2 separate regions of the Homo sapiens genome follow, and region 2 is linked to region 1. Evidence: fine-mapped QTL for protein levels in blood plasma. A gene starts in region 1. The other region holds a variant in brackets. All regions are shown on one strand. Distances are from middle to middle.

Region 1 (2,923 bases):
AACATAATTGTTTTATGGCAGTAATGTCTAAACAAGGGTCCACAATTAGGCTGTATTTTTATCTTGATTTGTGAACTGTCTCTGCCAACTACTCAAATTTCAAGCTTGTTGAGACATATGTTATCCCTGGAAACCCATCATAAAAATGAAGCATTTTACTGTCCCACTAATTCTGTGTGCTCTGGTCAGTTTCCCCATCTAGATCCAAATTAACCATGTAATTGTCCTTATACTAGTGACTAGTATTTTAAATGGCCTTTTTAGGGAAACCAAAAAGAATAAATTTATTGCTTTTTGTGCAAAAATATAATCTGGTTTGGATTCTCTTTTCTAGCTTTTAAAGCAGTGAGATAGAATGCAGTCGTGGGAAAAGAACTGGATATGGAATTAGGAAGATCTGCATTTGAAATCCAGCTCTGCGACTACTTCTTACGTGTGTGATCTCATAAAGTCACTTAATTTATCTGAGCCTTGGCCTCTTTACCTGTCAGATGGGGACCCTCTGGTGAATCAAATGAGCCATTAACGATCTAATAACATAACATGTTACCTTTATAACTTAATAATTCATTTAAAAAATAATTTGTGTATGTAAGGATGCAAATATAATTAGTAGGAGATAAGAATGAAAGAAAACCTTCAGCCAAAGGCAGAAATATTTTGGTTAAAAAGAAATCAAAGTACTGAAGAACAAGAGCAAGACAAAAATGATTACAACGTCTTCATTTATAGCTCACATGTCACAGCTCAGTATTTATAGGTTTGTTAGTGACAGCCTTCCCAGTATAGCAATGTTAATTACGAAGTAGCTGTCATTGTGTTTCACTGACACAGCACTGTGCACCTGACGGAGGCTGAAAGTACTCATTATTTCCATAGCTGATCATTTAAAGGTCCAAAAATTACACCAATAAATCCGTTTGTGTCTGATTACAATCTCTCTATATCGTACATTGAAATTCCCTGGTGACTTTTTAACAAATCTTAGTGCATTTTATTTCCCAAATATGATTTGTAATAATCAGAGCTTGACTAAAACCTCAGGAAGAGGTGATGGGTGTGAAGCTGAACACAATACTAAATCTATATTCAAATTTTCCAGAGCCTATACTTCCATCGTTATTTAAATGCCATGATCAAAGCAATAGATAGACTAAATATGGAGGGAAAGGAGGGAGGGAGAAACTGAAGAAGGAAGGGAGAGGGAGGGAGAGAAAGAGATCGAAGAGAGGCTTGGGAAAATGTTCAGTGGAAAATCTGTAGAAATGATGTAAGAGAAAGCAAAGGCAGGGATTGGAGTAAGGGGTGTATAACTGAGACTATAAAAACTCAGAGAGAAAACTCACCACCAGGGCTGAGTTTTGGAGAAACTGCAGAGACAGTACTCTAAAGTTAGAATCTCCTGATCTTTCACGAGGTAAGTTATATGTAAAAATTGATAAAGATTTAATGCTTCTTTTAACTATTATTTTTACTTTCACAGACTCTTTAAATGTTTTGATTATATCTTGATTTTGTTAAAATTAGAGTGGTAATATTTCCCTCTCTAAAATGAGTAGAAAATCAAAGATATTTTTGTAATGCAAACTTAAGGTAGAACTAATTGCTTATTCAGATATTTCATATTTATAAGATTGCTTTTCTCTTCCATTTCAAAACAAACAGAAAGTGAATGCAAAATAATAATTCTATACATATATATGTTATTAGCGTTATTTTGCTTTCCTCAAAATTGTGTAATATTAGAAAAATGTTTAATATAAAAGAGTGGTCTAAACAACCTAGGTAAAAAAGAAAGGTTTTTTCCTCATTATTTCTATCAAAACTGGAGCTTAAGAAACATCCCTAAACTAATGAAATTCTATCTCTTATGTTCTTAAAACCTAATGCATCTTCTGTTTTTCTCCTTATATGTCAAATATGCAAATATGATATTAATAACATAGTTGGAGTAGACTTAGAGTATGCCTGTTCTTCAGTATTTGTAGTGCTCTTGCTATTCAATGATTGAATTGAGAGTTAATCTGAAACATACATTTGAGCTCTGTTGGAGAAGAAATTTAAAATTTTATTTCAGGTTTAGTGTGCACTCAGTGAATTCAGTTCTAACAATTCAAATGTTGTTTCTTTGAATAACAGACTCTATAGGTTTAGGAATGTGATTATTATTTGTTTATGAGTTTTCCTTCTAAAAATTTAACATTTTTGAGAATGAATTATGGTAATTTTAATGCCTATATAAGTTATAGAATTGATAGTGTTATACCAAAAACACCAGGGACATTCTGTGTTTTCTCTTACTTTGGTACTACTCTTCAGCACGCTTACAGAACTTTTCTAAGGAGCACTTTCTGTAGATAACAGTTCAGGTCTCCTTCATGTCAGTGAATTTTACTATGGCTTCATTCAAAAATTATTCAGAGTGTTTAAGGTTGACATTTGCTTTCTCCCCCTTATTTCTCAGGATTTTTAACTGATTCTTATATACTGAATAATGAGCAGTAGAGAAGCAGATATCTTCAGTTGACTGGGCACGGGAACCTCAGGGCTATAATTTTAACTTCTTTTACAAATACTCTCAATGATTTGAACATTTGATTAATAAAATTAGATTAATTGAACTTGTCTCAAAAATAAAGAACTCGAAGTAAGAAATCCTAATATATCATTCTAGCTCTGCTATAATCCACCTATACAACTGCAGGCAAGCCTTAAGCACGAATTAAGGCTTGATAATATTGTATTTTGTCCTTGTGAAAAGGACAAAAAAAAATAGAAGTGCTAGGGATACTGAGTATAAAAATATTTGAGGAAGCCCCCATGTCAGTCAATTTTCCCTATATTAGAGAATAAAACCTCAGTATCACAGAAGTTTAGGACTAATCTTTAGAGCTAATTTAACTGCTTTGCCAATATTTCATTT
Region 2 (2,923 bases), 75 kb before region 1:
AATCCCAAAATCCTCTTTTTATAATGTGACTTTGAAACTTCTTCCCTTGTAGGGGAGCCTGTAGGACAGCTCTACAGCTACAGCAGAAATAACTCTACATGACTTCCAAGGCTAAGTCATAAAAGGCAATACTGCTTCTGCCTGATTCTCTTGGGATTTCATGCCCAAGAAAGGTTAATCAGCACACAGAAATAACTACATGGAGTGTAACCAAGCTCCAAGCCCATTCCTGGATGGCCTCTAGGCTGACAATCTGTACCAAGTTGCCAGACATATGAGTGAGCCATCTTGAAAGTAGCCAAACCAGCTGATGTTATATAAAGCAGAAACAGCTAGCCCCAGATATCTTTCCAAATTGCATATCTCTCAGTCTTTTAAGTGTTACAATAATGGTTTGCCTAATACTCAAAGGGAACTTTGAGGGAGATTCTAATTATATACTTTATTGAATAAGTGATGAGATTTCATAATAGGTAATATTTTCTGAGTATCCGGTACATGCAGGCACTGTTTAAAACATTTTAATGTATCAACAATTTAACCTTCACATGACAACTCCCTGAGTTATATTCTATTTTAATTCCCATTTTACAGTTGAGGAAACTTAAATAATCATCTATAAATACACAGAGAGGTGTGGTAATTTTCCCAAGCTCAAAGAACTAAGAAGTATTAAGATTAGAACCCAAGCAGTATGGTTTAATCACCAAGAATCTGAGAGGCATGTGTTTTCATGCAGAAAAAAATATATAAAGAGTCACTGAGGTGACTTTGTATGTCTGGGGGTGAGGGTGTTGAAGTGCACTTGAGAGTAGTCAATAGACATGGAGATGTGCCATGCATATCCTCCTTTAAGATGCTGGTATTTACAGCCACCAGCCATTTGTTCCTTCAGGGTCCACCTCAGCTTTTTAGCTGAGGTCATGCTCTTTTCGACTTGGACCCTGGCCAATAAATCAGCAAAGCAGTGGTATAAAAGCAGAGTCACTTCTGCCAAACCCAGGGCTCGTCTAACTCCTGTTGTTGAGTTGGCAGAGATGTAGGGTCTTCATCATGCCCAATCCTGTTTCTTCCCTCTACCTTTCACAAGTGTTACTTCCCAATAAACCTTTTCCTCACTGGTTCTATCTTAGTACCTGCATTTAGGAGAACCTAACCATGGCAGAGAAAAGCACAGAAAGTCAGGCAGAGGCTAAGTCAAAAAAAGATCTTTAATCCCTATTAATGAGCTTTGATTTTTTTTTTTTTTTTTTAAGTATTTATTGATCATTCTTGGGTGTTTCTCGGAGAGGGGGATTTTGGCAGGGTCATAGGACAATAGTGGAGGGAAGGTCAGCAGATAAACATGTGAACAAAGGTCTCTGGTTTTCCTAGGCAGAGGGCCCTGCCGCCTTCCGCAGTGTTTGTGTCCCTGGGTACTTGAGATTAGGGAGTGGTGATGACTCTTAACGAGCAAGCTGCCTTCAAGCATCTGTTTAACAAAGCACATCTTGCACTGCCCTTAATCCATTTAACCCTGAATGGACACAGCACATGTTTCAGAGAGCAAGGGGTTGGGGGTAAGGCCATAGATTAACAGCATCCAAGGCAGAAGAATTTTTCTTAGTACAGAACAAAATGGAGTCTCCCACGTCTACTTCTTTCTACACAGACACAGCAACAATCTGATTTCTCTTTCCTTTCCCCACACTTCCCCCCCTTCCACTCGACAAAACCGCCATCGTCATCATGGCCCGTTCTCAATGAGCTGCTGGGTACACCTCCCAGACGGGGTGGCGGCCAGGCAGAGGGGCTCTCACTTCCCGGAC[A/G]GGGCGGCTGGCCGGGCGGGGGCTGTCCCCCACCTCCCGGAGGGGGCGGTTGCAGGGCGGAGGGGCTCCTCACTTCTCAGACGGGGCAGCCGGTCAGAGACGCTCCTCACCTCCCAGACGGGGTCGCGGCCGGGCAGGGGCATTCCTCACATCCCAGACGGGGCGGCGGGGCAGAGGCGCTCCCCACATTTCAGACGATGGGCGGCCAGGCAGAGACGCTCCTCACTTCCTAGATGGGATGGCGGCCGAGCAGAGACGCTCCTCACTTCCCAGACTGGGTGGCTGGGCAGAGGGGCTCCTCACGTCCCAGACGATGGGTGGCCAGGCAGAGACGCTCCTCACCTCCCAGACGGGGTGGCGGCCGGGCAGAGGCTGCAATCTCGGCACTTTGGGAGGCCAAGGCAGGCGGCTGGGAGGTGGAGGTTGTAGCGAGCCGAGATCACGCCACTGCACTCCAGCCTGGGCAGCATTGAGCACTGAGTGACTGAGACTCCGTCTGCAATCCTGGCACCTCGGGAGGCCGAGGCTGGCGGATCATTCCAGGTCAGGAGCTGGAGACCAGCCCGGCCAACATGGCGAAACCGCGTCTCCACCAAAAAATACGAAAACCAGTCAGGCGTGGCGGCGTGCGTCTGCAATCCCAGGCACTTGGCAGGCTGAGGCAGGAGAATCAGGCAGGGAGGTTGCAGTGAGCCGAGATGGTGGCATTACAGTCCAGCCTCCGCTGGGCATCAGAGGGAGACCGTGGAGAGAGAGGGAGAGGGAGGGGGAGGGGGAGGGGGAGGGGGAGGATTTTTTTTTTCTTGTAAGTCAGTGATCCTCAAATTATTTTGATTGGGAACATTTATTAGTAAAGTGTGTGATGTATAACAATATATGTTTATATGCATTTATTTGTAGAACATATAGGCAGAGTAGTAATTTTATATTATATGTCTTAATTATACACAAAAATATAAATTTTTAAAAGTCAAAAATATAATATTTAATAAAAATAAATTTTCACATTTTTATTGGTATCTAATGAATCTGTCTTACATATTCTCTGGAGAATATGCATCTCCTTTTGGAAACTATTACTTTTGGCAATGAAAATCTCTAGGTGTTTTACATGA

Direction of the effects. Positions count from the first base shown, and alleles are read on the strand shown. Strength reflects both the effect of a copy and how common the allele is.
With allele A in place of G in region 2, the plasma level of the protein whose gene starts at base 1,351 in region 1 is higher (weak association).

What was found. A credible set is the group of variants that fine-mapping cannot tell apart. PIP is the chance, under the fine-mapping model, that this variant and not a neighbour inherited with it causes the effect. The UK Biobank Pharma Proteomics Project read protein levels with antibody pairs (Olink). The fine-mapping took linkage between variants from a reference panel, not from the people measured, so its PIPs are less certain.
Region 2: its variant is the best candidate, but not a certain one, in a credible set for the plasma level of the OSTN protein (UK Biobank, PIP 0.75).

The regions. Positions count from the first base shown.
Region 1 is chr3:191,197,891-191,200,813 of GRCh38, forward strand. It overlaps OSTN (osteocrin), which reads left to right and starts at 1,351. Exons shown (of 5, transcript NM_198184.2): 1 at 1,351-1,417.
Region 2 is chr3:191,123,218-191,126,140 of GRCh38, forward strand. No RefSeq gene overlaps it. Among named protein-coding and RNA genes, the nearest start is that of OSTN, 75 kb to the right of the region's middle. The variant A/G (reference allele first, on the strand shown) is at 1,809.